Homo sapiens: one gene and its partners. The protein of the gene in region 4 interacts with the protein of the main gene of each other region in a pairwise test. Each region holds a gene or a part of one and is shown on either strand. Other genes may lie near its edges.

The links.
Region 1: the proteins of NCR3LG1 (region 4) and TMEM222 interact in binary tests that used the Homo sapiens proteins (3 or more experiments, as listed by UniProt).
Region 2: the proteins of NCR3LG1 (region 4) and COL4A5 interact in binary tests that used the Homo sapiens proteins (3 or more experiments, as listed by UniProt).
Region 3: the proteins of NCR3LG1 (region 4) and TSPO interact in binary tests that used the Homo sapiens proteins (3 or more experiments, as listed by UniProt).

What each region holds. Positions count from the first base shown.
Region 1 is NC_000001.11:27,317,345-27,325,708, forward strand, and holds the start of TMEM222 (transmembrane protein 222), read left to right. Parts: upstream 1-4,818; 5' UTR 4,819-4,853; coding exon 4,854-5,047; intron 5,048-6,529; exon of another isoform or gene 6,530-8,364.
Region 2 is NC_000023.11:108,442,100-108,450,452, forward strand, and holds part of COL4A5 (collagen alpha-5(IV) chain isoform 2 precursor), read left to right. Parts: intron 1-8,353. UniProt on the Homo sapiens protein: Type IV collagen is the major structural component of glomerular basement membranes (GBM), forming a 'chicken-wire' meshwork together with laminins, proteoglycans and entactin/nidogen.
Region 3 is NC_000022.11:43,153,850-43,162,202, forward strand, and holds part of TSPO (translocator protein), read left to right. Parts: exon of another isoform or gene 1-2,089; intron 2,090-5,360; 5' UTR 5,361-5,389; coding exon 5,390-5,571; intron 5,572-7,202; coding exon 7,203-7,341; intron 7,342-8,353. UniProt on the Homo sapiens protein: Can bind protoporphyrin IX and may play a role in the transport of porphyrins and heme. Promotes the transport of cholesterol across mitochondrial membranes and may play a role in lipid metabolism, but its precise physiological role is controversial.
Region 4 is NC_000011.10:17,368,800-17,375,799, forward strand, and holds part of NCR3LG1 (natural cytotoxicity triggering receptor 3 ligand 1 precursor), read left to right. Parts: intron 1-67; coding exon 68-165; intron 166-3,206; coding exon 3,207-3,713; 3' UTR 3,714-7,000. UniProt on the Homo sapiens protein: Triggers NCR3-dependent natural killer cell activation.

The DNA of each region.
Region 1 (8,364 bases), on a different chromosome or scaffold from region 4:
AATACAAAAATTAGCTGGGGCTGGGCGCGGTGACTCACGCCTGTAATCCCAGCACTTCAGGAGGCCAAGGTGGGTGGATCACCTGAGGTCAGGGGTTCAAGACCAGTCTGGCTAACACAGTGAAACCCAGTCTCTACGAAAAATACAAAAATCTGTAGGCATGGTGGTGCACACCTATAGTCCCAGCTACTCAGGAGGCTGAGGCAGGAGAATCACTTAAACCTGGGAGGCAGAAGTTGCAGAGAGCTGAGATAGTGCCACTGCATTCCAGCCTGGGCAACAGAGCAAGACTCCATCTCAAAAAAAAAAAAAAAAAAATTAGCTGGGCGTGGTGGTGTGCACCTGTAATCCCAGCTTACTAAGAAGGCTGAGGCAGGAGAATCACTTGAACCCGTGAGGCAGAGGTTGCAGTGACCCGAGATGGCCCCACTGCACTCCAGCCAGGGTGACAAAGGGAGACTCCATTTCCAAATAAAACAAAAAAATGGAATGGAAAAGGAAGTCGTTTTGTGAACTCTGATGTCTAAAGGACCAGTGGGTTTGCTCTGAAATAGTTTATTGCACTGAGTTGGTCCCCTTAATCTCCTCCCCACCATGGGAAGGTTTGGAGTCATAATGGAAAGAGGCCCAGCTTCCAGGGGCCAGAGAGGGCAATGATGAAGCTGAGCAGAAGAGAGTACGCTGTCCTCCCACATGCTGCATATACTGCAGCATGCCCCTGGCTCAGGCTCTTTCCCTGGATTGAGGTGATTCTTCCCCAGAGCCCTTAAGGAGACATCTACAGTCAACAAATAACTCCAGTGACATTACCTGAGCACTTCCTCTCTGCCAGTTGCCTAGTTGGATACAGGGACCAATAGATCCAGTTAGTCCCCTTCTCAAGGAGTTCACAGTCTCTTGGGAGCGACAGACATGTAAACAGCTAATGCTAATGCAAGTACACATGAATATTCAATAGGTGGAAACACAGCCTTCGTGCTCTGGGAGCAAAGAGGGAGCATTTGCCTGAAACCTTGAAAGTAGTGTAGAAGAGGAAAGGAAGGACATCCCCGATGAGGGAATGGTGTGAGCCAACACACAGGGTATGAAGTGCAGGACTTGTTCTGTGAAGGGCAAACAGGCCAGTGAGGCTAACTCCAGGCAAGTCCCGAAGGAGACTGTGAGAAATGAGGCTGGAAGGAAAATTTGAGGGCATCATGAGGGGCCTTGAATGCCAGGAGCGAGATATCCTGAAAGAGGAGATTTGTGAGTCCTGGGGACTTATACATGGGGCCAATTGAGGGGGTGCGCTGACTCCCACCAAGAGAGGAAATGCCCCAAGCTCACCCTTCAAACAAGCAGCATCTTACCCTCAAAGGTTTCCCAGCTTGACAGTTTCAGCTCTGGCATCCTTCCCTCCCCCAGCCAAACCCATAAGTGGATCCAGATGGTCATTCCTATTTTAGGTTGGGGTGTGTGTTGGGGGAGGGATAGCTCTGAAACCTATCAATCCTGTCCCAAGCTCAGCCATAACAGGAGCTTCCTCCAGGACCCTGCTGTGATCCTGTGAGCCTGGAAGGAAATATTAGTCTTTGATGGAGATTTCCCATCTGTTTATGGGTGATAAGGAAGCAACAGCAGAGGAGTCCAGGGCACAGGCCAGAGAGACTCTTACAATTGGGTGAGAGAACCAAGGTGTATATGTGAGAAGGAGTGTTCTGCAGGGATGAATCCATTATTTAAAAAAAAAAAAAAAAAAAAAAGGCCGGGCACGGTGGCTTATGCCTGTAATCCCAGCACTTTGGGAGGCTGACGCAGGTGGATCACAAGGTCAAAAGATCAAGACCATCCTGGCCAAACATGGTGAAACCCCATCTCTGCTAAAAATACAAAAATTAGCTGGGTGTGGTGTTGCGCACCTGTAGTCCCAGCTACTCGGGGAGGCTGAGGCAGGAGAATTGCTTGAACCCAGGAGGCAAAGGTTGCAGTGAACCAAGATTGTGCCACTGCACTCCAGCCTGGTGACAGAGTGAGACTCTGTCTCAAAAAAAAAAAAAAAAAAAAAAAAAAATCTTGTGGATGGGTTGTGGTGCGGGGCAAGCCTGTGGGACAGGCACCAGAGGATCTGGCTTCTACCTCCAGGTACCCGGCCCTCCTCATGCCACGTTTCTGCAGCTGCCTAGGCCAAGGGTAGGATGACGTGGACCTTAGGAAAGGAGCCAGGGCTCTGTGGTCTGATCCTCTGCCTGAGCACTGTTCCCACCAACCCAAGCCCATTGAAAAGGTTTGGGACACCAAGAGGTAGCAGGTTCCTGCGTTTAGACTGTAACCAGCACGTGATACCAAGCCTGTAAGTATTTGCCTTTCATTCAATTTAACAAATATTGATTAAACAAATACCATGCACTAGGCACTATACTGGGCATTGGGTATACACACGTTAGCAAGACAAATAGAGTTTCCAGTCAAGTGGGGGAGGCAAATAGTACATAGCTACAAAGAAGCTATGAAGAAAAAGAACAGGAGATTAATGGGGGCTTTCTCATTTAGATTGGGAGACCAGGGATGGGCTGAGAAAGTAATATTTGATCTGAGACTGGAAGAATGAAAGTTAGCCGCTTTAAGTAGATAGGAGTAGTATTTCAGGCAGAGGGGAACAGTGTGTGCCAAGTCCCTGGAATATGAAGGAGTGCATGAGAGGAACTGAAAGAAAAGGCCAGGATGGCTGTAGTATAGTAAATAAGGAAGGGGCATGGGTCCAGATGGTGCAGGGCTTTGTGAGCCATAGTAAGATATTTGTGTTTCATACGAAGTGCAACGGGAAGCCATTGAAGTTTGGCAGATTAAATGTGGTACGTGTATTAGTACTACCAAACTTGTGGCAGGCCCTGAGAGACTTACTTTGGTTGTTTATTCATCAATACCTACAATAAATGTTTAAAGGGTACCCAGCAACCCTGTGCTAGAATTATGGGCTGACAGTCATGGTAGGGAGATGTCTAAGGCACAGACCTTCCTCACAGCCTGTGGTCCAGAAGAGATTAGATAACTACAGTGATTGAATCAAGAAGTCATGTAATTTATTCTCAACAACTGTAAACTACACACCTAATCTATTCCAAACCCTGTGCTGGATGCTGGTTGTTGCCCTTCAAGGATCACACACTGCACAGGGGTCAAGGAGAGGTACAAACGTGCTCAAAGAATTTGGAGTGGGTTAGAATCATTTTCTAACCCACTGTAATCATTATCATGCCTGCGAATCTCTGAGGTCTTTATAAAACATCCATTTATTCAATCACCTAATAAATCAGTAAACATCTAGTGGGCATATGCTTTGCACCAGGAACTGTGCCAGCTACTGAAGTCAAGGACCTTAGAGTTCTATAGCAGAGACAGACATCCCCCACAAAAAAACATGAAAATATTAGGTGCTACAAACAGGACAGCAAGCTCTCCATAGATCAGCATTGAGGGAGGGTAATTCAGTGGAAGAAGGACCTTCCCCAAATGGGAAGCTCCTAACTTCCTGAGTGCATTTGTCCATACCTTCCTTTACCTGATTACTCTTTTTATTCTTTTTTTTTTTTCTTTAAGGCTGATTTTTAGTGGCAGCCTTCCTTCTGACTTTGGGCTGTCCCCAACTTCCCCTCCCCACCCCAGTAGACCCCAGTAGACTTCATTTTCTTTGTCTTGACATCCTTTAAAAAGCCAAAAGTCTCCAACATTTGAGCCTGGCTTCTCTCTAATTATGGTTGTGTGTGATCTCAAACAATTAACTTCCCTGAGCCCGTTTTCCCATTTGTACAATGAAGGGATTGGATCACATCTAAGGCTTATGATTTACTCCAGTAAGTATTCACACTCTTGCACACACTGCTCTGCACGGCCTTCCTTTCTTTGTACCGCTGCACTCATACTTCCACTCCTGTGCCACATGGCAAACATCAAGACTCAACTCAATAATATCCTATCTTCCAGCAAGTCTTCCCTGTATATACAATAAAACACACACACACACACACGTGCGCACACACAACTGTGTGTGTCTTCCTTTATGCTACCACTACCTCGTGAGAGGGCCACAGAATGAAAAGGGCAAGGGAGGTATAAGACTTGGGTTTGGGCCAGGCGCGGTGGCTCACGCCTGTAATCCCAGCACTTTGGGAGGCCAAGGCGGGCGGATCACAGGGTCAGGAGTTTGAGACCATCCTGGCTAACATGGTGAAACGCCACCTCTACTAAAAATACAAAAATTAGCCGGGCGTGGTGGCACGCGCCTGTTATCCCAGCTACTCGGGAGGCCGAGGCAGGATCGCCTGAACCTGGGAGGTGGAGGTTGCAGTGAGCCGAGATTGTGCCATTGCCCTCCAGCCTGGGCAACAAGAGAAAAAATTCCGCCTCAGAAAAAAAAAAAAAAAAAAAGACTTGGGTTTGCATCGTGGTCTCTCACCTTTTGAACCTCAGTTTCTCACCTGTAACAGGAGGGAATACCTAATTTGGATGTCTAATTAGTTTATGGGGATTAGAAACAATTCATGTCAAGTGCTTGGCACCTAAGAAGTGCTCAATAAATAGCGACTGTACCACACCTCCTAGGAGCCCTCAGCGTACTGAATTAGAGTTCTCTATAAGTCTCCGGCGCTAGACTGCGAACTGCCTGAGAGCATCCCTTCTGCAGCCGCGGGGCATAAGCGGCAAAGACTCGGGGCTGGCAGGCGCATAGGGAGTGGGGCGGGGCTGGCCGGGCCCAGAGGAACGCGGCTCGGATTCCCGGGGGAAGGCCAAGCGGGGCGGACCCCATCTCCGGGAAGTGACGCCATGGGGACGAGCGGCACCAGAGCCGGGGCCAGTCGGAGCGGGGCGCGCGCCGCATGGCGGAAGCGGAAGGGAGTTCTCTGCTCTTGTTGCCGCCGCCGCCACCCCCGCCCAGGATGGCGGAAGTGGAGGCGCCGACGGCGGCCGAGACGGACATGAAGCAATATCAAGGCTCCGGCGGCGTCGCCATGGATGTGGAACGGAGTCGCTTCCCCTACTGCGTGGTGTGGACGCCCATCCCGGTGCTCACGTGAGTCTCTTCCGGCATCCGCCTGGGGACGAGGAGGGCCCAGGGAGAGCCGGAGTCGGGCCGGGCTAGCCTCCGGCCCCAACGCGCAGCAAGCCTTTTCCTCGGGTCTGGCCCGCACGCCTCGCCCAGTCACCAGAACCCCGCCATCCATGTAGTGCCAGTTTGTGCACACGGCTGGGACACGCTCCCTGCTCTCAATACACCTGGTGTAGCCAGGGAGAGAGTTGTAGGCCAGCAGGAAAGGGCAAGTGGCTGGGAGACTCGAGCTGTGAGTGTGTAGAAGAGGGAGCCCCTTATCGGATCTGAGGAGACATTTTTATTAATTCACTGGTTTATTCTCTCATTGAGCAAATGCTTACTGGTCGCTTACCATATTCCAGACATACTGCTGGGTCTGGGAGCAAGAGTGGGAGTTTGGTTGGGACCACACGAGATCCTGGGATGTCAACATTGGAAGGGCCCCCAGAGATCTGAGAGTCCAACCCTTTGTCTCACGTGCCATCTCAGTTGCAAACTGGGTTTAGATCCCAGGTTGTCTGCCTCCCAGACCAAAGTTCTTTCTGTAACATCAGCCTTTGTCAGGGGAGAAGCAGGTGCTCTGGTACTACTTGGCGCCTTTTGGGAGGAGCTCTCATATGGGGAGAGGTGGTTTGCCCTCCTGCTTCAACCTTGACAGCTGATAAACGTAACCCCTCCTCACCGTGCTGGATAGTTTGCCAAGCTCTTAAACACCCATTTTATCAGAATTAAACATCCATTTTCTAAGGTAGGTTATCTTCTCAGATGGTGAAGCTGAGCTGCTTGTAGCATTAAGTGTCTTGATCAGGTTCGCACCCCAATAAGCAAAGGCATGAAGAGCTCAGTCTTCTGATCTAACTTGCTCTTTGCACTACATCTTATCCACTCTCACCTGATGGGATAGCTTGTTCCGCTATCAATAACAGCCAGTGGTGATGTGGAGAAGGGATCATTTGGGGCCTTAGGTGTTGCTGATTCTAAAAAGATCGTAGTTTTTGAATTATGTTAAAATACTTGAATTATTTTGTGTTTTCAAGTACTTATGCATATAAGAGCATCCAAATCTGTTCTTTAAAAATAAAATATTGGGACAGGCGCGGTGGCTCATGCCTGTAATCCCAGCACTCTGGGAGGCAGTGGAGGGTGGATCGGTAGGTAGTTCGAGACCAACCTGGCCATCGTGGCGAAACCCGTCTCTACTAAAAATACAAAAATTAGCTGGGCATAGTGGCACGTGCCTGTAATCCCAGCTACTCTGGAAGCTGAGGCAGGAGAATCGCCTCAACCCGGGAAGTGGAGTTTGCAGTGAGCCGAGATTGCACCACTGCACTTCAGCATGGGCAACACAGTGAAACTCCGTCTCAAAATAAATAGTGAAATAAAATCTTAGGAAAATGTGCACATTAATTCATTCAGTGTTCTTCTAACACATGTGCTAAGTGACCCCTGTGTTCCCAGATAGTTCTAGGTGATGCGAATATACAGTGATGAATAAAGGAGATATGGTCTTTAGACTTTTGAGAGTTTAAGTCATAGTGGAAGGAGATAGACAGTAAACAAGTAAGCTAATAAAAGAGCACCTGATAGTGATGAGTGCTGTGAAGAAAATAAAATATTAGTGTGAAAATAACAGGGGCCGGGCGTGGTGGCTCAGGCCTGTAATCCCAGCACTTTGGGAGGCCCAGGCGGGCGAATCACCTGAGGTCAGGAGTTCAAGACAAGCCTGACCAACATGGAGAAACCCCATCTCTACTAAAAATACAAAATTAGCCGGGGTGGTGGCACATGCCTGTAATCCCAGCTACTCAGGAGGCCGAGGCAGGAGAATCACTTGAACCCGGGAGGTGGAGGTTGCGGTGAGCCAAGATCGTGCTTTTGCACTCCAGCCTGGACAACAAGAGCAAAACTCCGTTTCAAAAAAAAAGAAAATAACTGGGAGGGATACTCAGGAAATGTATTGGTTTTCTTAAAACCTGTCTTGTGATCCTAAACTCTCTTTAGCCTTTCTTATTCTCAAAAACACCATCTGTGGCGTGGTCCTCTGCGGAGAATGGTAGCAGCGTGAGGTGGAGGCACCACAATCCCTTGTCACCTGGGCCAAAAGCAGCTCATAGCCCATTTCTATTCAGATCTGTGTACAGGTGTTCATAAGACCAAGATGAATAAGACACTGTGTTCCTGTCAAAGGGTTCATGTTCCCTTCTGTGTTAGTCCATTCTTGCACTAATACTTGAGACTGGATAATTTCTAAAGAAAAGAGGTTTAATTGACCCATGCTTCTGCAGGCTATACAGGAAGCATAGTGGCTTCTGCTTCTGGGGAGACCTCAGGAAGCTTCCAGTTATGGTGTAAGGCAAAGGGGGAGGGAGGCATCTCACATGGCGGGATTAGGAGCAAGAGGGAGTGAGGGGGGAGATGCTACACACTTTTAAACAACCAGATCTTGGGAAAACTCACTATCACGAGAACAGCACCAAAGGGATGGTGCTGAACCATTTATGAGAAAACCAGCCTCATGATCCCACCACCAGCCCCCACCTCCAATATGGGGACTACAGTTTGACAGGAGATTTGGCGGGGACAGATCCAAACCATGTCACCTTCAAAGGACTCACCTCCAGCAGGAGGGAGAGAAAGGTCAATTAGCCATCGTAGTATTACTGTATAGTGATGATTGCAGAGCTAGGCATAGATGTGGCGCAAGTAACTGTCACCTGTCTTTGGAGGAGAGATCAGAGGAGGAAATGGAACCCAAAGATCTGTCTACCCCCTCAGAGATGTTGGTAATTCTGCATGAAAAACCAGTTTAGTGCTCGCCTCAGCAGCACATATACTAAAATTGGAACGATACAGAGAAGATTAGCATGGCCCCTGCGCAAGGATGACATGCAGATTCGTGAAGCGTTCCATATTTTTGTCTCCCTGGACTTCGAGCAGGAGATGGCCACTACCACATCCTCCTCCCTGGAGAAGAGCTACAAGCTGCCGGATGGCCAGGTCATCACCATCAGCAACAAGCGGTTCCAGTGTCCGGAGGCGCTGTTCCAGCCTTCCTTCCTGGGTATGGAATCTTGCGGCATCCACGAGACCACGTTCAACTCCATCATGAAGTGTGACGTAGACATCCGCAAAGACCTGTACACCAACATAGGGCTATCCAGAGGCACCACCATGTACCCGGGCATCACCGACAGGATGCAGAAGGAGATTAACGCCCTGGCATCCAGCACCATGAAGATCAAGCTCATTGTGCCCCCAGAGTGCAAGTACTCTGTGTGGATCAGCGGCTCCATCCTGGC
Region 2 (8,353 bases), on a different chromosome or scaffold from region 4:
ATACATAAATATTTTAATAGGCTCAAAAATATGAATGATATCGGCTCTGCATACTTGTGCTGGAGATATCGGTGACCATTTCTAGAGTAAAACTGGTTGGTGGTAGGGCTAGTCTTTGACTGGAGTAGTTTAGTATTGGGGTTTTTATATCAAAAAAGTGTTGCTATTTAAAGTGCTTTACTCTTTTATAGGTAAATGATTTCTTTATCTCTGAAATCATGCCAAATTGGTACATCACAAATATGTGGAAGATCTTTTTTTTAGGTAGAGCATTCATTAGGTGGAATAAAGTAACCTCTATGCCAAAAGGTTAGTAATAAGAGAAGACAGTTTTAAGTTGGAAATATAATTTTTAGTGATGGAAATAACATTTTTATGTGAAGGTAATTATACCTGTACTGATTCACTGTCAGTGGGATATGCACTTAGATTTGTGGATGTGGGTAGTATGTAAAATTATGTTAGTTTTATTTTACATAGTTAGTAAGTTGTTTTCTGTGCAGTAGATTGGATATTTTTGTCTACTTTAAACGTACTATCTTCCTTGTGACCAGCGGCACGAATTTATCAAGGGTAGGAGTGTTGTTTGTAGCCATGAAACACTTCATCCTCTATGAAGTATATTGCTCCATAGGAAAAACTTGTCATCATTGTCATCATTATTAATGTAGATAACATAATGAGTGTTTACTATGTGCCAGGCACTGTGCTAATATGATAATACATATTATCATATTTAATCTTCAGAACAGACTTATGAGACATATACCGTTATTATCCTCACTTTACAGATGAGAAAACTACAAATTACAGACGTTGAATACATTCCCAGAAATCCAGTCATGTAGGCAGTAACTTGTGAAGCTGGAAAATTTGAATCCAGGCAGTTTGACTCTAGAATCTTTGCCCTTAATGACTGTCCTATACTGCCTACTTTGTATGTGGTCTATAGAGATTTACTGGTGTGTAAAGTATTTGGATCTCTGCCACTTTTTTTGGACACAGGAGGTGAAATGGAAATGATAATGGGGGTTACATGTCTTCCTGCTGATGTTAGGAGAAGCAGCATGGTGTAATGGAAATAGCTTTGGGCCTAGAATAAAAAGATCAGAGTTTGACCTCTGTATCTGTATCTAGAGTGAGATTATTTAAAAGCAATCTAAAAGCAAATGCTGTTGAAGGTTTTATGATTTTATGTAATCACAATATGTAAACATTTCAACTTATATAACTACTATAATTTGTGACAGATGATTTGTTTTGAAGGAAGATTTGCCTTATGATTATTTAATTACTCAGTTACTGCATTAATTTTAAGTCCACCAAACTTTTCAGGAGCATGTCTATTGTGAAACAACCGGGTATGTGTGTATGGTAACACACTTTACTTAACATGCTTAATTTAGTTTTGTTCTTTTTTTGTACTAATTTGCCTACCTATCATATCCAATTTTATTCACAAACTATATAGATATATATCTTTAGTCTTATGCATATATCTATATATGTATCTGTCCCATGGCAGTGTAAGAGTTTGTATTTTTTCATGTGTTTTTATTTACCTTTTGATGTCTATACATGTAAGACATGAGACTCTTTACATCCCTGAAAGCTTGGTTAAGATGGTGTCTGCTAGGTTTATTCACTATAAAGTCACTATTTTTTCTTTTGTAATTACAAAGTGAGACTATGCAGGGCAATATTGTGAGACAATGTAAATATCCTGTTTCTCATCATATATTTGCCCACTAATTTTAGCATATGTTGATGATTCTGGCTTGAATAAATTATTGTTGTGACATTTGCCAGACATTGATTTCAATTTTCAACATTTTTACATTTATTAATTGATTGAATTATACTGTAATAAAAAACTTTCTCTTTACGCTTAATGTATATATTTATTCAGCTGTTTATAGCAGTATGGACTTAATGAATATTTGTTTTATTCTATAGGTTATAATGAATTATGCTCTTACTACTTTTTGTTTTTGCTGAAACCCAGATTTGGCCAACAGGAGCCCCTTCAAATTGGCTCCTGTGTCCTTTCAACATGTCTCCATCATTTTTTAAGCACCCTCTTACTTTCTGGCACCACAGATGTTCCAGACTCTTTTTTTTTTCTTTTTTTTTTTGAGATGGAGTCTTGCTCTGTCACCCAGGCTAGAGTGCAGTGGCGCGATGATCTCGGCTCACTGCAAGCTCTGCCTCCCGGGTTCACACCATTCTCCTGCCTCAGCCTCCCAAGTAGCTGGGACTACAGGTGCCAGCCACCATGCCGGGCTAATTTTTTGCATTTTTAGTAGAGACGGGGTTTCACCATGTTAGCCAGGATGGTCTCGAACTCCTGACCTCGTGATCCACCCGCCTTGGCCTCCCAAAGTGCTGGGATTACAGGCGTGAGCCACCGCACCTGGCCTCCAGACTCATTTTTTAATTTCCTTGCCCCAACTCTGGAATCAGAATCTTTTCTCCAAGGAGCTCTGATTCTTTTTATTGGAGAATGGTATGTAGAAGCCAAGATCTGGGTGCTTGGCATGCTTATTGCTACTGAGGTGTCATTGCCTCTAGGCCCTCTCAGCAGGCAGAACTAGGAAATATATGTATATATGCACACATACCTGTTTCTATATCGATTTCTTGAAGTCCCTCTTTATATATGTCAAAATCATGGATTCATAATGATACATCTGATTCCAGTCCAAGACCCTAGAATAAATATACATGATCTCATTCTCTTCTGGTATTTCTCTTCACACGTTTTGTGGACTTTGTAGAGGTCTTATACAGAGTCTTCAAGAGGTTGGCCTCTGAAGTCAGACATGGAATCTGACTGGTAGATGTGTAACTTTCAGCAAAATAGTAATCTTTGAGACTTAATTTCCTCATTGGCAAAAGGAAGGCCGTAGCACCTATCTCACATATTTTTTTTTTTAGGATGAAATGAGAAAAGTTATGTAAAACATATAGTATTTGACACCATAGTAAATGTTAAATCAATTTTAGATTTCATTATTGTCATTATATTTATTGACTTACCATTTCTTACTACATCAACTCTCAAATCTCCTGTCTGATTTTCAAGGCCTATCATGATCTTTTCCCTTATCCAACCTTATTTTTCATTACAGTTTATAATATACTCCCTCCAGTCTAGCCTAGGTAAGCTTTCCTACAATCCCGTGAGCACTGCATACACATTTTGGCCCTCCATCTTGATTAGAATTTTGTGGATTCAAGTCTTTGCTCAATTCCAGCAAATGTTTACATTTATTCAGCAGATATTTATTCAGCAACTTCTAAGTACTCAAAAATTCTATTTATGCTGTTCTATTTCTATTCATGGAGGTGTACTGCCTACAAAATCATTTTGTGCTAGACACTATGGCTAAAACCAAATAAAGACAAGGTTCTTCCCTTCATGGTGTTTACATACTGGTGAGAATAGCTAAATAGTCCTGTGAAACTTTCCCTTATTATAGTATCAAATACTGATTGTACCTTTCTTTGAACATTTGTAATATTTAGCCTCTCCCAGTTTCGTATCTGCATGTATTTGGTCTTATAGGCATTTTGTTTTATGACATTTTATCTGTTCTTTTTATTTGATTAAAGTCCCTTTTGAAGCAATAACTATATATTTGTTCATTCAACCAATTCATATGTTGATTTTATATGGTAACAAAAGTAACAGCTGCTCAATGTTGGAAACTTGAAAAACATAAAGAAAATAAAAATATGTCCACAGTTCTACCAGCAGGCCAGAACTGTGCTGGCTGAGCACAGAATAATGGTGTGTGTTTTGATTATTGTTGTTTTTACTATTTTCTTTCCTATATATATAATATGTTTTTAAAAATAAATTTGGCATAGAACAATGACTTGTAAGAGTACAATTTTTGAATTGTAAATGATATGTTAAGGTTTGGATGTGAATCACGAAACTCTAAGCACAATTCATGTTTCAATTGCTATGGTAAAGTTTTCATTTCATGAAGATACTGAATTTTTAAAATACTAAAAAACCTGATTAAATAAACACTAGCTAATAACTAAAAAAAAAGTTGGTTAAAATAAAAAAGTAAGTTGGGCTTATTCTACATATAGTTTTATTTCTTACTGTTTGATCACTTATCAAGCAGTTTCCCATGTTAACATTCTTAGTTTTAAAACGTTATTTTAAAATGATTACATACAACTTGTATTTATACACACTCCAATTTATTTACCTGTTCACTTTTGTAGAGTATATTTTAAAATGTCAAGATTTGTTAGCCATCGTAAGAAGTGCTGCCATGAACATTTCTTATTCCATATTTTTATTATTTTATTGCTACAGCCGCCTTCATGGGGAATTAGTGGGTTAAACGCTATAAGTATTTTTCAAGTCTTTGATACATACAGTAGACCCTGATATTTAAAAAGGCTATATCAACAGAGAAATTATGGTAACTTTTTTAGTGGTTACTATGTTATATCCTGTTAGGTAGCTAATGTTATTTCCACTTTTATATACAAGGAATCAGAAGCCCACATTGGTTAAATAACTTGCCAAAGGTCGTGCAGTTGATACATGATTGGGCCAAGATTTAAACCAAGGCTCTAGAACCTGCTCATGAGATTCTCCTCAATCCCTATTTCATACATGGTAGATAATAGAGAAAAGTAAAGTCATGATGAAAAGTTGAATAATTCTCATTGCCCTTTCTGTAAACCCTTCTGTGACTGGTCACTTAAGATGATTCTGAAGAAAGACTCTCCATTGGCTCATCTTTTAATAAGTCTTTACCATAACTGCCTAGGCCGTTCATCCTTAAGGGCTTAAATTTTAATTTTGTGCACAATATATCCTCCTACTTTTCTCCCCTGGGCAGAAGGTGGAGCTTGCCCTCCACAAATACCTCTCCTACTGATCTCTTCCCAGCTATAACAGTGGTATAACATACTCAAATTCATTGACATTCTCCCTCCCCCAGAAGAGTTTTGTGCATATGCATCTGAAATGAGAGCCCCTTCTGACCACTTTCCCCACCCCTCTCACCAGCCCCTGCACTGTAGCTGTCTTTCAGGCTTACACTTAAATGGCTGTGTCTTTACCTAGTATTGTCCCTAGCTTTCATCTCTCCCTTAGTGATACTCAGAAACTTCCCTTCATTAATTCTTAATCTTTTTTTTCCACTTTGGGGAGATAATATCACAGCCTCAATTCCCTCTTTTTAGAAAATTAAACTGGTTAGTACATACGGAATGTGAGGTCCCCCATCCATTTTGTACCACTCCCAATTTGTAACATACTCACTTTACCTTCTCCTCACATTTCCTCAGTAGCCAAATGACATCATTGCCTGTTTGCCAGCCCTATAGCTTGCGCAATTGAAATTTATTTCTCTGCAAAGTCACAAACTGTTATGCATTGTGGTTTTTCCAGGTGGCATTTGAATAGCTGAACTTTAAGCTCCTGAGTGATAGGGATCTGCTCTTGCCAAATTACTTTCCAGAATGGTTTTACCAATTATACTCCTATCAGTAGTGTATAAGAGTGCCTGTGAGACAGACTTAATTTTTCTTTCCTATCTACTACAGTGACTATGGAATTGATGCTCAATTGATTGCCAGTTGGTTGGCTGATTTGGTCTTAGTCTCTAATGATTTTCTTTTACAAATGTAATCATTCCATCATCTCATCCCCTTGTGATGATAGCAGCTACGGAACAGAAGTAATTTTTGAAAATGTATTCTTTCTAATTAACATTATAAATGAACCACCCAGACACTTAGCTAAATCTTTATTATAAAGATTTGTTTTTAAATAGCAGTAATTCTTGAGGATTTTAGAGAAACACCTTCAGTGTGATATGTGACACATAGGCTTCTTTCATTTTAACAAACCAGATTCTCATTTTATGCAACTTGAACTTATTTACCTCCATAGTCTGTCCAGGTCCACCCACACTTTGTGCCTTTAGCAGCTTCTGCTGGCCTTTAACCAAAAGGGCAGTCTATGATGGTACTTGCTACCCTGTTGAAATGGGAACCTTAAATCCCTTGCTTTTCATTAATTAAAGACAGTCAAAGGCAAATGTTATAAAAGAAACAGGCTTTTGCTAAATTTAATTTTTAACTTTTTTATTTTAATGAATCTGTTATAAATGTCAGATGCTTACTAACTTGTAGAGAATGTAAGTACCATTTACAAGCAAGTTCTATTCTGGTTAATGGAATTGTGTTTTTGACAGTAATAAAATAAGACTTCAAGAAATTCTGTTAAGGAATTTGTATCATGCTATAATTCAATCAAATAATATTTTTCCTGTATATAGGAGAACTGGCTGGTTTGCTTTCAAAATTTCTTACAGTGTATATGACATTAATTGAGTACTGAAAGAGATATGGAACTTTGAGAGGGGCAGTGGTATTAGGAGTGGGACATGACTGATGAATTATTTAGTATATTCTGTGTTTACAAGCCCTCCAAAAGCTTGCTAAAGGAGGACTGGTCCTTCTCTGTCCATATTCTCACAATTTAATTGATGTAGTAAAATGTTTCTGTATGTGGAAGATAGTCATGGTGGTGTCTGTTTATATTAGATAGGTTGTTTTTCTTGCAAGTGCTAAAAAACACTATCTGTCTTAAACAATAAAAACAATTTTTAGCTCACATAACAAGAAGTTTGGAGGTTGATTATCTCCAAAGTTAATTAATTCAGCCAAATAATGACACTAGTAAGGGCCAGAGTTTGTTCCATTTTTCTGTACTGCCATACTCTGCCTATCAACTTGCCCTCTAATATTAGTGCCCCTCATACTCTCAAGATGGCTGCTGCAGTTCCAGGAATCACATGCAGACACTGCAATGCCCACTAGAAAGAGAGTATGAACTATTCATGTGTATCTCTTTTTACTAGCAATGGAAACTTTCTAAGGAGTCCCACAGCACCACCCTGAAAACACCTCTTATTTATCATTGGTTGAAATCGTGTTATATGTATATGCCTACACCAGTACATTGGCAAGTGGTATACGGACATAAACGTAGAGTTAGTCCAGTCACTCACACAACCACCTCTCCCTGCCCTGCGTCTGGCCAAAACACATTGCTACCTAGAAAAGTTGGAGGGTGGAAAATATGTAAATAAACTCATGATGTTTTGGGGGGAAGGAAGAAACAGTTTCTATTTCACAACCTCATGAGTTTGTCCTCAGGATCAGTTGATACAAAAGATTTGTAAGAAACTGGTGTATTTGTTAAATGTGATATATTACTTATCTAGGGAAACGAATGTTTTGTATAGTTCTACAAATGAAAGTTGTTGACTGTTCATAGGCATTTTAGAGCTGGAGGGACATTAGTGATCTTTTAGGTCAGTAGTTCTCAAACTGTGGTCTGTGGACCCCTACGGTTCCTGAAATCCTATTAGAGAACATGAGGAATATTTTAACAGTAATATTATCTTAGTCTGTTTGGGCTGCCATAACAAAATACCTCAGGCTGGGTGGCATATAAACAACAAATTATATCTCATTGTTCTGAAAGCTGAGAAGCCTAAGATCAAGGCAGATCAAACCTAAGATTCAGTGTCTGGTGAGGGCCCTCTTTCTGGTTCACAGATGTTATGGTCTCTCTGTGACCTCACATGGTGAAAGGGGAAAGGCGTTTTTTTCTCTGGAGCGTCTTTTACAAGGGCACTAATCTCATTCATGAGGGCTTCTCCCCGTGACATAATCATCTCCCAAAGGCCCCACCTCCTAATGCCATCACCTTGAAGATTATAATTTTAAAACATATGAATTTTTTTGGAGGGGACATAAACATGTATCATAGCAAATACGAAGAATGTTTACTTTTCTCACTATGTTGACATTTGCACTGATGGTGAGTAAAATTACTGGTGCAGTGTACCACATTTTCTTAGTAGTTGTATTCGTCATACTCTCAGGGGGGAGAAAGCCAGTTTTACCTCAGAGGGTCCTCAATGTAGCATTAATTTATATTAATTGAATTTTGACCCTTGAGTGTATGTCTTTTTAATATTACATATGACAAAATTGGAAGTATACACAAAGCACTTATGTACGCTGAAGTAAGATAGTTGTTTCTAGGAAAAGCACTTGTGCAATTGTTTGAGTTACGAGCTGAACCAGTTGATTTTTGCATGGAACGCTTTTTTGTTTGTTTTAGATACAGGGTCTTGCTGTGTTGCCCCAGCTGGTCTTGAACTCCTGGCCTCAAGAGGTCCTCCTGCTTCAGCCCCCCAAAGAGCTGGGATTACAGGCATGAGCCACCAAGCCCAGCCAAAATTCATTTTTACTTGAAAAACAACTGAGACAAACTGTGGTTATTTATACTTGGGTA
Region 3 (8,353 bases), on a different chromosome or scaffold from region 4:
CTGGGCTCACTGCAACCTCCGCCTCCAGAGTTGAAGTGATTCTCCTGCCTCAGCCTGGCTAATTTTTATATTTTTAGTAGAGATGGGTTTCACCATGTCGGCCAGGCTGTTTCTTTATTTTTTACTAAAAAAAAGTTTAACCCCCGAACCTCGAAGGAAAGGGAAGTAGTCTTTCTTAACAGAACCAATTCCCCCTGGATACCCCACCCTCACCCTACCCTCTCCCAGGCCACTCGATGGCCAGGTTCGCTGTGGATTTTTCCAGACCTGTGGGCTGTTTCACTGGTTACTTTTGTAATGAAAAATGCACACAAAGGTTACGATGAGGACGATTAGCCATGAATCATTTTTAAAAAGCCTGAAAACAAGTCCCTGGGACAGTGCTGGCTTCGTTGGAGAGACAAGGCTCAGGGGAGTGGGTGCAGCTGGGGGTCGGGGTGGGGATCAGAGAAGGGACACATTCCTTATTGTGTTTCTGGGTCGCCTTCTTTTTTTTTGTTTGCTTTATTTATTTATTTATTTATTTTGAGACAGAGTCTTGCTCTGTTGCCCAGGCTGGAGTGCAGTGGCGTAATCTTGGCTCACTGCAACCTCCTCCTCTCGGGTTCAAGCAATTCTCTTGCCTTAGCCTTCTGAGTAGCTGGGATTACAGACGTGCGCCACCACACCAGGCTAGTTTTTTATTTTTAGTAGAGACGGGGTCTCACCATGTTGGCCAGGCTGGTCTCGAACTCCTGACCTGAGGTGATCTGCCTGCCTCAGCCTCCCAAAGTGCTGAGATTACAGGTGTGAGCCACCGTTCCTGGCCTTCTGGGTCACCTATAGGGAGGTCTCCAAGAACAGAAAGACACCCTGAAACCCACTGGCTCGACCACCACCTCATAGATGGGGACACAGAGGCTCAGGAGATGAGATACCTTGGGGCAGCGATGGGTCTGGGGTCTTCGGGCCAGGAGTGAAGCCTCACAAGACCTGGAGACCCTGGGTCCCACCCTCAGTGGGGAAGGGCTCAGATTCTGCAGGGCCCGATGCTCTGTGGGGGCTGGGATGTTGCCGCGGCAGGTGGAGAGAGTGATGCTACTGGCCCTGAGAGAACCTTCTGGCACCGTTCAGAGGTGGGGTGGAGTGGCCTGCGGGTCCAATCCTGGCGCCGCAGGCTCTATGAGCCCTGTTTCAGATGAGGAAGGAGGCTGAGACGGGCGGTGACACAACTCCTGGCAAGTGGTCACGCGGCCCAGAGCAGCCCGGCAGACACCCAGCTCAAAGGGAGGGGTGGGGTGGGTTTTGGAGTCACTCGGACCTAGAAAGTTCTGTGACTTCTCATGTCTCAGTTTCCTCATCTGGAAAATGGGACCAGTCACGAGTCCACCATGGAGGCCGAGTGGGCCGTGTGGCTCAGGGAGAAGCAGCTGGTCCCCTGTGGCTGCTGTGGGGACTGAACAAGGCGGTGACCGTCGGGATGAGCACGGACTCCACCACGCAGGCCCCTGCCTACCAGAGGCCTGTGCACAACCAGAGCTGAGCAAGGCTTGGAACCTTCTCCTGCCTCTACGTCCTGCGCCCTCTACCCTGCCCCGATCTTGCCCCTGTTTTGGGGGCGCTGCTCCGTGCAGGGCATTTTCACCTGTGGAGTGTCCAGGGGCTCTCGTGGCTGATAAGGTCTCGTCACAGGTCCAAGCCTTGAGGCCCTGTCTTCCCCTGGAGGAAATGGGGCTAGTGGCCCCACACTGATACCCACAACCCCTCTCTTCTCTGGAGTTTTCAGGGAAACGTTGTTGTCCCACCCCTTCCTCCCTTGAGCTACCCCAGCCCCCCAAGAAGCAGACACAGCGGGTTTACCCACCTGACGTTGGAGGAAGCCAGGCCCAGAGACGAGCCTTGGATGGAGGCAGAGCCGAGGTCTGGATCCCGATTCGCTTTCTGAAGGAGACAAATAAAGGGTGTATAGGTGGCTTCACCCCTCTGCCTGAGCCTGAGTCCTGTCCCTGCCATGTGTGCCCCCTGGCCTGGCCCACCCCAGCTTTCCCTGGACTCATCCCAGAGCAGATATCTGGATCCTGCCTAGCCTGGCTCAGCATGACTCATCATGGTGGGTACCGCCCCTGCCCACCTGTTCCCCATTTGGGCAATTCAGGAGCTGGGCAGTTCCCCAGAGGCCCTAGGAAACTCCCCGCCCCCGACCAGGCTTTCTCCTTGTGGGGCATCTGACCGCCTGTTTTCTGGTGGGGCAGACCCTCTGAGCCCCTTGGCCCTGTGGGTCATAACCACAGCCAGGCCTGAGAAGGGGGCAGCCTGGGGTGGGAGTGTGAGCACGGGACTCAGAACTGGCTTCAGACCCTGCTCTCTTGCTGTGGCCTTGGGAAAGCCACCATGCCTCTGTGACTTTTATTCGTTCCATACAACGGGGGACCTGGATGGTGGTCTCTAAGGCCCTGTCAGTGGGAACACTGGGTGAGTCCCATTGTGATTTCCTGGGGACCGAGTGTGTGCCTGGCCCTGGCTGGGTGCTGGAGCCAGGTGACAGAATCGTGGGGAGTTCTGCCACGTGCTACAAGGTGAGGACCTCTAGAACATGGCGCTCAGTGAAGGAAGCCAGACACGAGGGCCACACACTGCGTGATTCCATTGATACCAAATGTCCAGGATGGGCAAGTCCCCAGAGAGAAGTCAGATTGCTGGCGGCCAGGGGTGGGAGGGAGGGGGAGGGGAACCACTGCTGATGGATACGGGGTTTCTTTTAGGGGTTGAAAATGCTTTGGAACTTGATACAGAGGGTGGTTGCACAACATTGGGAATATACAAATGCTGCTGAATGGTGCACTTTAAAACGGTTAATTTTAGGCTGGGCACGGTGGCTCACGCCTGCACTGGGGGTTTCCATTTGTGGCATGAACATCACTGAAAGCGCACCAGCTTCCATGTCGTATCAAGGGGTTCGGGATGTCCACGTGTCTTATGCTGGTGGTATTAACCTTGCTCGCCTGGACAGGGACACCTGTGAGTGAGAGCAGGCCATTAGTGTGGGGCAGGTGGGCCTCAACTGAGGGTGTCCTGGGAAAAGGCACGTACAGGCACCCTGGTCCGGCTCGTTTCCAGTGGAGGCTGAACGAGGCTCCTTATGGTTCCCCCACAATGTCACTCAGCTGTGGACTCACGCAGGCTCCAGCAGAGCAGCGGTTATGTCTTGGTTGCCCAGATGAGCAGTAGGCTGAGCTGGCCTGGGCTTACCTGAGAGGATGTAGTGGGAGGCTGAGCTGGGAGGTGGTCCCAGGGCTGTGGTCCAGAGCTCCATATCCACTTGGCGGTGGTGCAGGGCCAGTGCTCAGCAGTACCTCCTGCCCCAGGGAGGGTGGCCTTTCATATGTGTAGTGACATCAGACCCCCATCCCCACCCCATGAGCACGTGTACCCTGGAAGCTGGAGGGCGGGGCAGGAGGGCGGGGCGGGGCAGGAGGGAGGGGCGGGGCAGGAGGGAGCGGGAGGGAGAACACAGGAACGTTTCTTGCCGGGACATAGGTCACATGCCCACCCCCCCAGAATGTCCATCCTTACTGCTCATTTTTGCAGCGACCTTGGGGGATGGGGTAACTGTCCCCATTCAACAGGCGAGAAAACTGAGGTCCAGGGAGGGGAGGGAATCATAGTAAGTGGCAGCACCGGAATCTGCTGGATGCCTGACACTCTGTTCCTTTAAAACGTGCCGGGCGCGGTGGCTCACGCCTGTAATCCCAGCACTTTGGGAGGCTGAGGCAGGCAGATCAACTCAGGTCAGGAGTTTGAGACCAGCCCGGCCAACATGGTGAAACCCTGTCTCTACTAACAATACAAAAATTAGCCCGGCATGGTGGCACATGCTGGTAATCCCAGCTACTTGGGAGGCAGGAGGCTGAGACGGGAGAATCCCCTGAACCTGGGAGGCAGAGGTTACAGTGAGCTGAGATCGCGCCATTGTATTCCACCCTGGGCAACAGAGCAAGACTCTGTCTCAAAAAAAGCGCATATCTATGTTATCCATTTTTTGCCAAAATTGGGGTCATTCTGTAGTCAATGTTATATTCTGCTTTCTTCGTGTTATGTTGAGAACAACTTTCTCGTTACTAGAAAGCCTTCAGAAGCTTGGTTTGTGGGGGGCCAGTCTTTAATAGTCCCTGGCTGCTGGGCACTGAGGTTGCTTCTGTGCTCACCCAGCTCCATGGATCCCAGGCCAGCAGCCGCCCCTTCTCCCTGGGGCCAGATTTGCCCTTTGCCCTTTGCCCCTGCCAAAGCCCAAGTTCAGCACAGTCTCTGCTGACACCCCTCTACCCCCGCTTGGCTGCCTCCATGTCCCCTGGACTGCTTGTCTCTCGTGTTCCCCTGGGACGAAAGTGCTCAGTATTCTTCCTGTGGCATCTCCTCCCTGGTCCCTGGTCAGAGGGTCCCTTTCTGAGGTCCAGGCTCCCTCAGCACCAGTCTGTGCCCACTCAGGGCCTCCCCAGCCCTGTGCCCCCCTGGGTCCTAGCCCTCGCCCCAGCAGGCCTTGCTGCAAGTTGGCAGAACTGAATCGGGTTGTGTGGCTTCTTGTCTCAGACAAGAGCAGACGACTCCTGATTCTCCACCTAGAATCAGAGTGAGTGGGAGCTTAGCCCTTTGTTTTTGGATGAGGTCAGGGTGGGAGCCATATTGCCACCAGGGCAGAGCCTGGGCCAGAGTGCAGTGTGGCCCCAGGCAGGCTGCTCTCTGTCTCCGGTGCATGGGGAAGGGGCGGTGGTTTTACTGGGGCCCGTGTGGGGTGCTGAAACAGCTGTGTAGAGACCTTCCTTGCTGCTGTGCACTGAGCTGTGCTCAAGGTAGGTGAGCATTGATATCCCACTCTACCGAGGGGGAAACTGAGGCCCTGAGTTGATGTGATTTGCCTGAGGTCACAGTGAGGCAGTGAGGAAGGGGATTAGACCCAAACTCTGTCTGATACCAGTCACCAAATGAATGAGTGAGTGAGTGAGTGAGTGAAAGGTGAATGTGAAGTGCTGGAACGTAAAGCACTGGCCTGGCAGAGCTCCCAGGACGGGGACTTGACCCAGGGAGGCAGGCTGGGAAGGCTTCTTGGTGGAGGGGACCCAAACTGGCCTTGGAAGAGAGGAGGGGTCAGTGCCAGAGACCCAAGGTCGAGGTGAGGGTGGGCAAAGGTGAGGCGAGGCAGCTGGGGCAGGAGCAAGGCTGGAAATGCGTTCACTCAGCCACTCCCACCCCGCACATCTCTGCGCCTCCTGATCAGCTGACTGGTTGATCTGTGGGTGACAGGCCTTTCGGGGATGCTGGAGGAGACACGGGCCTGACCCCATGGCCTCAGGAATGCCCTCACCCAGCCCTGTCTTCTCTTTCAGAGCTCCCCTGAACAGCAGCTGCAGCAGCCATGGCCCCGCCCTGGGTGCCCGCCATGGGCTTCACGCTGGCGCCCAGCCTGGGGTGCTTCGTGGGCTCCCGCTTTGTCCACGGCGAGGGTCTCCGCTGGTACGCCGGCCTGCAGAAGCCCTCGTGGCACCCGCCCCACTGGGTGCTGGGCCCTGTCTGGGGCACGCTCTACTCAGCCATGGGGTAGGTGGGCGTGCACTGGCCTGGGGATAAGCCTGGCCCTTTGCAAGGGGAGGCCTGGCCCAGGACAGAGGGTCTTCTCCAGGCGGGCCATGGACCATGGCATGGTTTCCCCAGCCCCATTTGGCAAGCCAGGGTGGGGAAGCTGTGGGCCTGTCGATTGCACAACTGAACTTTCTCCTCCTGGGCCCCTGGGGGGATGGGTCAGATGCTCACCCCACCCTGGCATCCCCGCCATGTTCACAGCTCCAGGCAGAGGCCGGCTTAGTGTGTGAAGGTTGGTCTTGGGCAGAGGCATGGACGCTAAGATTAACAACGGCAGCAACAGCCCCAAGAGCAGCTCCTTTGTTGAACGCCTGCCCAGTGCCAGGCTCGTCTCATTCATACTCAACGACCCCCATAATAAGAGGCCTCCCAAGGACACAGGGCTTGCAAGTGTGGACCCCCCACAGCCCCTTCAGGCTCAGTCTGGCCTGAGTCCCCTGGGAATAGACCAGGGGAATTCCACCCGGAAAGGACGTGCTGGGAGGGGCAGGGCGCCTCTTGGTGGCTGTAGCGGGGACCACACCCAGGAGGCAGGGAATTGACTGCCTTCTGAAATGTTCCCTGCATCCTGGTTCTGTGCCAGCGCAGTGCAGGGTGGGGACGCAGGTGCCAGGCACTCTAGGGGGCGGATAGCAGAGGCCAGGCCAGGTGCCCGGCTCTGATGGGAATAAGGCCCTGGAACTTGGGTGTCACGTGGGCCTCACCCCTCCTGGCCCAGGCCCTGCCCAGCCAGGGTCCTGCACTTCCCTGGCTCCAGTGTCCCCACCCTGCTTGGCCTTCCTACACCACCCAGTCCCAGCCTCTCTTCGGGGGAAATTTTGGGGCTCCCTGTGGCTCTGGATAAGGCGAACCCCTCATTAGTAGGTGACAGCCGGGGCTCTGGCCCTGGCTGACCAGACTTTATCCACTGATGGCCTGCCAAGAGATCTCAGTCACTTCACCGCCTCAGTCTCCTCACTGTAAAGGGGGTGCTGATACTGCCTGCCTTATGGCATCATCATGAGACTGAAATGAGTGAATGCTTGGGAAGTGGTAGGGCCTGGCTCCTGTGAGTGCTGGAGGGCATCGGCTGCTGTTACTGGTGGTGTTATCGTTGCCCTGTGTTAACAGCTCCCATGATCAGGCCTCCCCCTGGACCTCACCCTGCAGTCACAGACTGACTCAGGGTCTCACATCTGCCTCAAAGCCTTTGCATGTCCTGTTTCCTCCCCTGGAAAACTCCTATTCATCATTTAAGGCCCAGGCCAAATGTCCCATCCTCTATGCAGTGCCCTGGCTAGGTTAAGAGCCTCCTCTCTACCTATTCACACCATGTGCTTCCCTTTCATAGCAGTGACAGTGATAATAATGGCAGGTATTTACTGAGTGTCCTAAATGCTGGGTATCGCATGAAGCACTGCCAATGTGCTAACTAGAATCTCTACAGCAACCCTATGAAAAATGAAGGCCCAGACAGGTCAAGCAACTTCCCTGAGATCACACAGCAGTCAGTGTCAGGTCACGTATGAACCATCACTGTGCCACTCGGAGGTGGGCAACGCTCCTGGCCTTGTTCCTAATGGTGCTCTGAACTGCGGCCTCTGTTTCAGGTACGGCTCCTACCTGGTCTGGAAAGAGCTGGGAGGCTTCACAGAGAAGGCTGTGGTTCCCCTGGGCCTCTACACTGGGCAGCTGGCCCTGAACTGGGCATGGCCCCCCATCTTCTTTGGTGCCCGACAAATGGGCTGGGTAAGTGTGGCCACAGCATGTGTCCCTGATCCCTGGATCCGACCCTTGGAGGACGTGGGGCATCACATATGACACTGGGTCAGTGTCTATAGGCGGGGCCAGGGGAGACAAAAGGCCATGTCTCTCTAGCTGTAAGCAGCCCACACCCTGGAGCCTCCCCTCTACTGACTCCTCCGGTGAGGGAAGCTATTAAAGCAGAAGGGGTTGCAGGGGTGGGTTTGGGGGCCACTGTGTAGGAAAACCCACACGAAGCCTGGTACTGTGTGGGCAGGGTCACTGGCCCCTCTACATAACAGCTTCTTCTTTTTTTTTTTTGAGACAGAGTCTCACTCTCTCACCCAGGCTGGAGTGCAGTGGTGAGATCTCGGCCCACTGCAACCTCCACCTCCTGGGTTCAAGTGATTCCCTTGCCTCAGCCTCCCGAGTAGCTGGGACTACAGGTGTGCACCACCACTCCTGGCTAATTTTTGTATTTGTATTTGTATTTTTTTAGTAGAGATGGGGTTTCACTATGTTGGCCAGGCTGGTCTTGAACTCCTGACCTCAGGTGATCTACCCGCCTTGGCCTCTCAAAGTGCTGGGATTACAGGTGTAAGCCACCGCGCCCGGCTGACTGCTTCTTTTTTAAAGTTTTAAACTTTTTTAAGAGATGAAGACTCGCTGTGTTGCCCAGGGCAGACTCGACTTCCTGGGCTCAAACGATTGATTCTCCCGCCTTTACCTCTTGAGTAGCTGGGACTCCAGGTCACGTCACTGTGCCCGGCAGCCTTTTTTTTTTGAGACAGAGTCTTACTCTGTTGCCCAGGCTGGAGTGCAGTGGCATGATCTCGGCTCACTGCAGACTCCACCTCCCAGGTTCAAGTGATTCTCCTGTCTCAGCCTCCCGAGTAGCTGGGATTACAGGCATGCAGCACCATGTCCAGCTAATTTTCTGTATTTTTTTTTTTTTGAGACGGAGTCTCGCTCTGTTGCCCAGGCTGGAGTGCAGTGGCGTGATCTCAGCTCACTGCAA
Region 4 (7,000 bases):
CAGTTGTGTGGTTTCTCTGGCCCTTGCCAGTAGGTTTCCTGCTAATGTTTTCCTTCTCTCTCTGCAGAAACTGAGAAGACAGATAATTTTTCCATTCATTGGTGGCCTATTTCATTCATTGGTGTTGGACTGGTTTTATTAATTGTTTTGATTCCTTGGAAAAAGGTAAGGGGCTCCAAAGCAAAGTTCAGCCCTGTGTCTTGGGCTAGTAAAAAGCTTTTAGAGCAGCTGCTGCCAACCTTACAAGCCTCAAGGGACAGGCCTGCTGGAAAGGACTTTGTCAGTCCCTCTTCACCATCAGGTGTTGGGAATGTTGGCTGTGTTCCAATCCAGTTTCCTATCACAGAGGACCTAGCTGTCACATACCATCTGACCTCTGTATGGTGGTTTGTGACTCTGGGGTGATGTGTTGTAAAGCCTCCCTCTCTTTCTCCATACTAAACAAGTATTATATCTCTGTGAATGAACCAGACTTTAGTGTTCAGACCAGGCCCTGAACTATGTGTGGACTGCTTGTTTTTCTCACACATTTAGAAACTATGGCTTAGAGAGGGGAATTCCTCATATTTTATCTGATCAATAACTGACCACCAGATCTCACTAGTTTGACTAAGAATTTCTAACCCTCACTAGGTATTTCTAAACTAAAACATGTTTCTAAACATTTTTATCCCTGACTATGGCCCAAATAGTAAATAAAACAGCTCAAGCTTTAGAGGCCCAAGAGACCTATGTAAATGTGTTGGTTAAAATAGTTTTAGATAATAAAAGGGCCCTCAATTATTTATGGGCCTGTCAAGGCAAAATCTGCACAACAGCCAGTACATCTCATTATAAATAATTTAGGAGAAGTGGAATAATCAGTCAATTAAGAAAAATGGCCCTTTATCTAAAGTTGGCCATTTAGATTCACGGGACTTATTCCTGTTGGATCTAGGCCATGAGAAAACTGGATAAAAAGTGGTTTTCAAATGTTTCTTGTGGTATTTGTGACTGTTGTCATATTTCTTGCCTTTCTCTGGTTCTGATATTCAGGTGCTATTGAGAGAGGAGGAAGGAAGAAACTAGTCAGGCAGGCAGTTAGGGTGGGCCCTCAGTCAAATTCCTTCAAACAAAAGAACAGCCTGAAAAATCAAACTGCAGATAAGGGAACTTGTACAGGGGGGCTTGCCTAAAACATGCCCACAGCCACATACATTAAAACAAGGCTACACAGGAGACTTGCCTAGACATGCTCACAATAGAAAATTCCATCCCCTGACACATGCACAGTAAGGGGAACAAAGCCACATGGAGTAACTCAAGCTAAGGGCTTGCATGCACACTACGAGGATGGGGTGGAGCTACCAGAAATGTGTGCCTTATGCCTTTGTATTCAGCTGTGAAATGGCAACCCTCTTTTGGGCCCCCTCTCTGCAGTGGAGTGCTTTCTTCTTTTGCTTATTAAACTTTCACTTCAACTTCATCTTTGGGGTCCGCGCTCCTTAATTTTCTTGGTCATGAGACAAAGAACTTCAGGTGATACCTTGGGCAATGAGAGACTGCTACATTGTGGTGCATTGACGAGACTAACATTTTGGTGCATTGGCCAGGAAACATTGGAAGGGTGAGTAGGAGCGGACCTCCAAACTCTTTACTTTCATTTCAGAGGCTTCTTGTCCTCAGATTTTTTCCTGAAGACTGAACAAAACACTGGGCCAGTTAAAAGCTTTTAGAGCGGCTGCCAACCTTATGAGACTTAAGATACAGGCTTGCTGGAGAGGACTTTGTCAGTCCCCCTTCACCCTCAGGTGTTGGGAATGTTGGCTCTGTTCTAATCCAGTTTCCTTTCACAGAGGACTTAGCTGTCACATGGGCTAGAAGGAGGTCCTGGGGCAACTGAAGGTTTCTGTTTGAGGCTACTCCTCAGTGTTACCTGAAGGTCCCTGGACTAACTCCAGCCCCCGACAGCCCGTCAGAATGTTGGCACCAGGACTTCCAGACTTTTCTATTGCATTTTCTTCCTTGCTTTTCGCAGCTACTATGTCTCCTATTCCTTCTTTGTATGCAATGTTGTGGGTGTCTTTATAGCCTGGGGAGATAATCCTGTTAAGCAAAGTCAGCAAGTGCCTTAGTAACGAGGAATGTAACTCAAATAATTGTTGTTTTTGTGATTTCCTTGAGACAGGGGGACTTCAAGATTTCAGCCTAAATTTTCACTTAGGGCCTTTTTGTCCCCCAGTGATAGACATTCATGGCACTCTATAGGGGGATGTTTCACCCCAAGTGAATACCCTTTTCTCCATCAGGTTGTTTTTCCTTCATGTAAGAGCTCAGCATTGCCCAATGAATTTAAGCATTCCCTCTATGAGACAAACTAGTTTTTTTTCTACTGGACAGCATATTATGGGGACAGCCTATTAAGCCCCAAACCTCCCTTTCTGACCTCTGCTTGGAAAGAATTTGTAGTCAGAGTTTTTTCCTAACATTTCAAACCCTATAGTGCTACCTAGTGGGATGGGATTTTTCTCTGTGAGAAGCCTTGTCAGCCCTTTGCCCAAAACCTCTAGTTCCCTGATTCCTTTCTCTCTTATGTCCCTCTTTCAGTGATCAGGCCCCATGCCCTATTTGTAAGCATAAAAACTCCTCTTTCAACAGCCAGGAAGAAGCTACCCTGGGAAGACATATTTTAGCCTCAGTGTTATCCCCATTGGAGGGAGAACAGCCATTCAATTTTTACATTCTTTTGAGGCATCTGTTCTGTACACAGCTACACTGGCATCTAAGTGAGAAAGGGATCTTGTGTTTAGAAATCAATCAGTCTCATTCTCTAGGAATTCATAACTTTGCCAGGGTGGTAGTAAGAGGATGTAAGGATAGAGTTAAGATGTTCCCTTCCTTAAAGGGTCTTGCCCCAATCCAACTACTGCACAATCTCTCCCATGGTTCTAGGGAATCTCAGGAGCCTTATGGGCCAAGTAGGTCTAGGAAACCAGCAGGGCAGAGAGCTAGGACCTTGTGCAGGTGAGCACAAGCTAGCTCCTCCGGATTCATGGGTGAAGGTCATGCTTTGATCCATGGGCAGCACCTATAATGGTCACCAGGAACCTGAGGAAATGGGAGGGAAGAGGAGAAGGGGGACGCCCCTTCCATTTTTCTCTCTGCTGTCGATCACTCCAGAAGGACAAAGGAGACTAAGGGATGCCTTTTCTCTCCTCTTTTTCTAGATATGTAACAAATCATCTTCAGCCTATACTCCTCTCAAGTGCATTCTGAAACACTGGAACTCCTTTGACACTCAGACTCTGAAGAAAGAGCACCTCATATTCTTTTGCACTCGGGCATGGCCGTCTTACCAGCTGCAGGATGGGGAGGCTTGGCCTCCTGAGGGAAGTGTTAATATTAATACTATTCAACAACTAGATGTTTTCTGCAGACAGGAGGGCAAATGGTCCGAGGTTCCTTATGTGCAAGCCTTCTTTGCCTTGCGAGACAACCCAGATCTTTGTCAGTGTTGTAGAATTGACCCTGCTCTCCTAACAGTTACATCAGGCAAGTCCATAGATGATAATTCCACAAAGTCTGAGAAACAAACCCCTAGGGAACACTCGGATGCAGTTCCGGATGCCCCAATCCTTCCTGTCTCCCCTATCTGGGAACCTCCTCCAGCCACAACATCAACAACTCCAGTTCTATCCTCCCAACCCCCAACTTTACTGTTACCCCTACAGTAAATGCCTGATGGACCTGGTGCCACTAGGGTCCAAGTTCCCTTTTCATTACAGGACCTTGGGCAAATAAGAGGGGACCTGGGCAAGTTCTCTGATGACCTGATAGATATATAGAGGCTTTCCAAAACCTAACTCAGGTGTTTGACCTTACTTGGGGTGATGTTATGTTGCTCTTAAACTCTTAACTACTACAGAGAAACAGGTAGCCCTGCAGGCAGCAGAAAAATTCAGAGATGAACAACATGTCTTCTATAGCCACTCAATAAGGAAAGAAGGTGAGAAACAACCAGCATTCACATACCCAATAGGAAGCGAGGCAGTGCCCCTTGAACAACATAATTCGGACCCCAGTGGTACCTTAGATGAGTGGCAAAGAAAACATTTTCAAATGTGCTTATTAGAGGGCCTACAGAGGACCAGAGCCAAGCCTCTTAATTACCCCAAACTCTCCATGATAGATCAAAAACTAGATGAAAATCCCTCAGCCTTTTTGGAAAGGCTGAGAGAGGCTGTAGTGAAACACACTTCCTTGTCTCCTGTTAGGTATGTTTATACCTCACATAAATAATTCAATTGAGGGACAGCTAATTTTGAAAGACAAGTTTATTACTCAGACAGCCCCTGATATCAGAAGGAAGCTAGAGAAACAGGCCATGGGATTAGATAGCACCTTACAAAACCTCCTGAAGGTAGCCACCTCGGTCTTTTATAATAGGGACCAGGAGGAGGCCCAGGGGAAGGAGAGGAAACACAAGAAAAAGGCAGAGACTCTGGTGGCCACTTTGTATAAAACCCAGTATCCCCAAGGTACACCTGCTAGTTGCTACCAATGTGGCAAACTAGGGCACTTCAAAAGGGACTGCCCAGGCAGCAAGAAGAAGCCACCTCAACCCTGTCCAGTATACAATGGGGACCACTGGAAGGCAGACTGTCCTGGGAAGCATAGGTCACTGAGTCCAGAGCCAGTCTCACAAATGGTCCAGCAGGACTGATGGGTCCTGGGGCTCAACTCCCTGGCTCCAGTGGCTCAGACTGCTGTTACTACCCGGGAGCACCAGGTGATTCTGGAGTTCGAAGGGAGGAAGGTAGACTTCTTTCTGGACACTGGAGCCAGGCTTCTGTTTTCCTCTCCAATTCAGGCCTTCGTTCCTCCCATAGCACAACCATGATGGGCATCTCAGGAAAGACTTTAACTTGATATTTTTCTCAACCTATTAGTTGCAGTCAGAGGGACCTACTGTTTACACAGGCCTTTTTAGTCATGCCTGAAAGTCCCACTCCTTTATTAGATAGAGATATTCCAGCACGTATGGGGGCCACCATCCTTATGGCTCCAGGACAAACTCCGCCTCCCCTTAGTGGAAACCAGTATTAACCCAGAGGTTTGGGCAACTCAGGGAAGAAGTGGCCGGACTATAACCACTATACCAGTCTGGATCCACCTCAAGGATCCCACTTTTTTTCCTAACCAGAGACAATACCCTCTGAAGCCAGAAAGTAGAAAAGGGCTAGACGCCAGCATTGATAACCTAAAGGCACAAGGCCTCCTTAGGCCTTGCAGTAGCCCTTGAAACACCCCAATATTAGGGGTGCAAAAATCCAATGGGGAAGGGAGACTAGTTCAGGACCTCTGCCTTATTCATGAGGCTGTGATTACGATTCATCCAGTAGATCCCAGTCCCTATACTTTGCTAACTCAAATATCCAAGGGAACTAAATGGTTCACAGTTCTGGGCCTAAAGGATGCCTTTTTCTGTATACCTTTATACCCTGACTCCCAATACTTGTTTACCTTTGAAGACCCCTCCAATCAAACCACCCAGTTAACCTGGACTGTACTGCCTCAGGGATTTAGAGATAGCCCCCACCTATTTGGGCAAGTATTGTCAAGAGATCTCTTCGAATTCTTCCATTCTCAGGTTAAAGTTTTACAATATGTAGATGACATTCTCCTCTGTGCCCCAACTGAGGAAGTTTCTTGAGACGGCACTGAGGCTCTCCTTAATTTCCTAGCTGGAAAGGGATATAAGGCTTCAAAATCTAAGGCTCAGCTCTATCAGACTTTGGTAAAGTACCTAGGTCTGGTCTTGTCAGAAGGGAACAAGAGCACTAGGCGAGGAGAGGATTAATCCCATTTCCTCCCTTCCTCTCCCCAGAACCCTCAAGCAGCTGAGGGATGCTTGGGCATTACAGGTTTTTGTAGGTTATAGATACCCAGGTATGATAAAATAGGTTGCCCTTTATATCACCTTATAAAAGAAATTCAAGTGGCTAAAACTCACTTCCTGACCTGGGAACCTGAAGGTCAAAAGGCCATTAATCAGTTAAAACAAGCCTTGCTTAAAGCACCAGCCCCCAGTCTTTCTGTAGGGAAGTCCTTTAATCTTTATGTATCATAAAGGAAAGGAATGACCCTGGGAGTTTTAATTCAAGTTCAAGGCCCAGCTCAACAGCCAGTAGGTTACTTAAGTAGAGAGCTTGACTTGGAGGCTAAAGGATGGCCAGCTTGCCTCTGAGCAGTTACAGTAGTGGCCCTGCTAGTCCCAGAGGCCACCAAGTTAACCCTGGGGAATAACCTGTTTATGCCTCACATAAATAATGTGGCAGGCTTGCTGTCCTCTAAAGCGAGTCTCTGGCTAACAGACAGCTGCCTCCTCAAGTATCAGACTTTGCTGCTAGAGGAATCTGCAGTCCAGTTAAAAACCTGACCTTGCCTGATCCCAGACACTTTCCTCCCAGAGGAAACTGGAGAAACTGAACATAATTGTGAACAGACTGTAGTACAACCTATGCCGCTAGGGAGGATCTCAAAGAAATTCCCCTAGAAAATCCAGACTGGACCCACTTTATGGATGGGAGCTCTTTTGTAGGACAGGGAGTCTGAAAAGTGGGATATGCAGTAGTCACCCTAAATAACATTGAAAATGTGCCTCTCTCACCAGGCACACACACTCAATCAGTTGAGCTGATCCCTCTCACAAGAGCACTTGAACTAAGCAAAGGAAAGACAGCTAACATTTATACTGACTCCAAGTGTACCTTTCTAGTTCTCCTTGCCCATGCTGCCATCTGAAAGGAAAGGCACTTCCTCACCGCTAATGGGTCTTGCATTAAATACCATCAAGACATCAACAGGCTATTATCCTCAGTGTTCCTCCCATGAGAATTAGTGGTCAGACATTGCAGAGGGCATCAGAAGCGGGTAGATGAAATAGCGAAAGGAAACAGGCTAGCAGACCAAAGAGCTAAGTCAGCAGTAAGAAGGCCCCAAGGTCCCAAAACACTTGAGG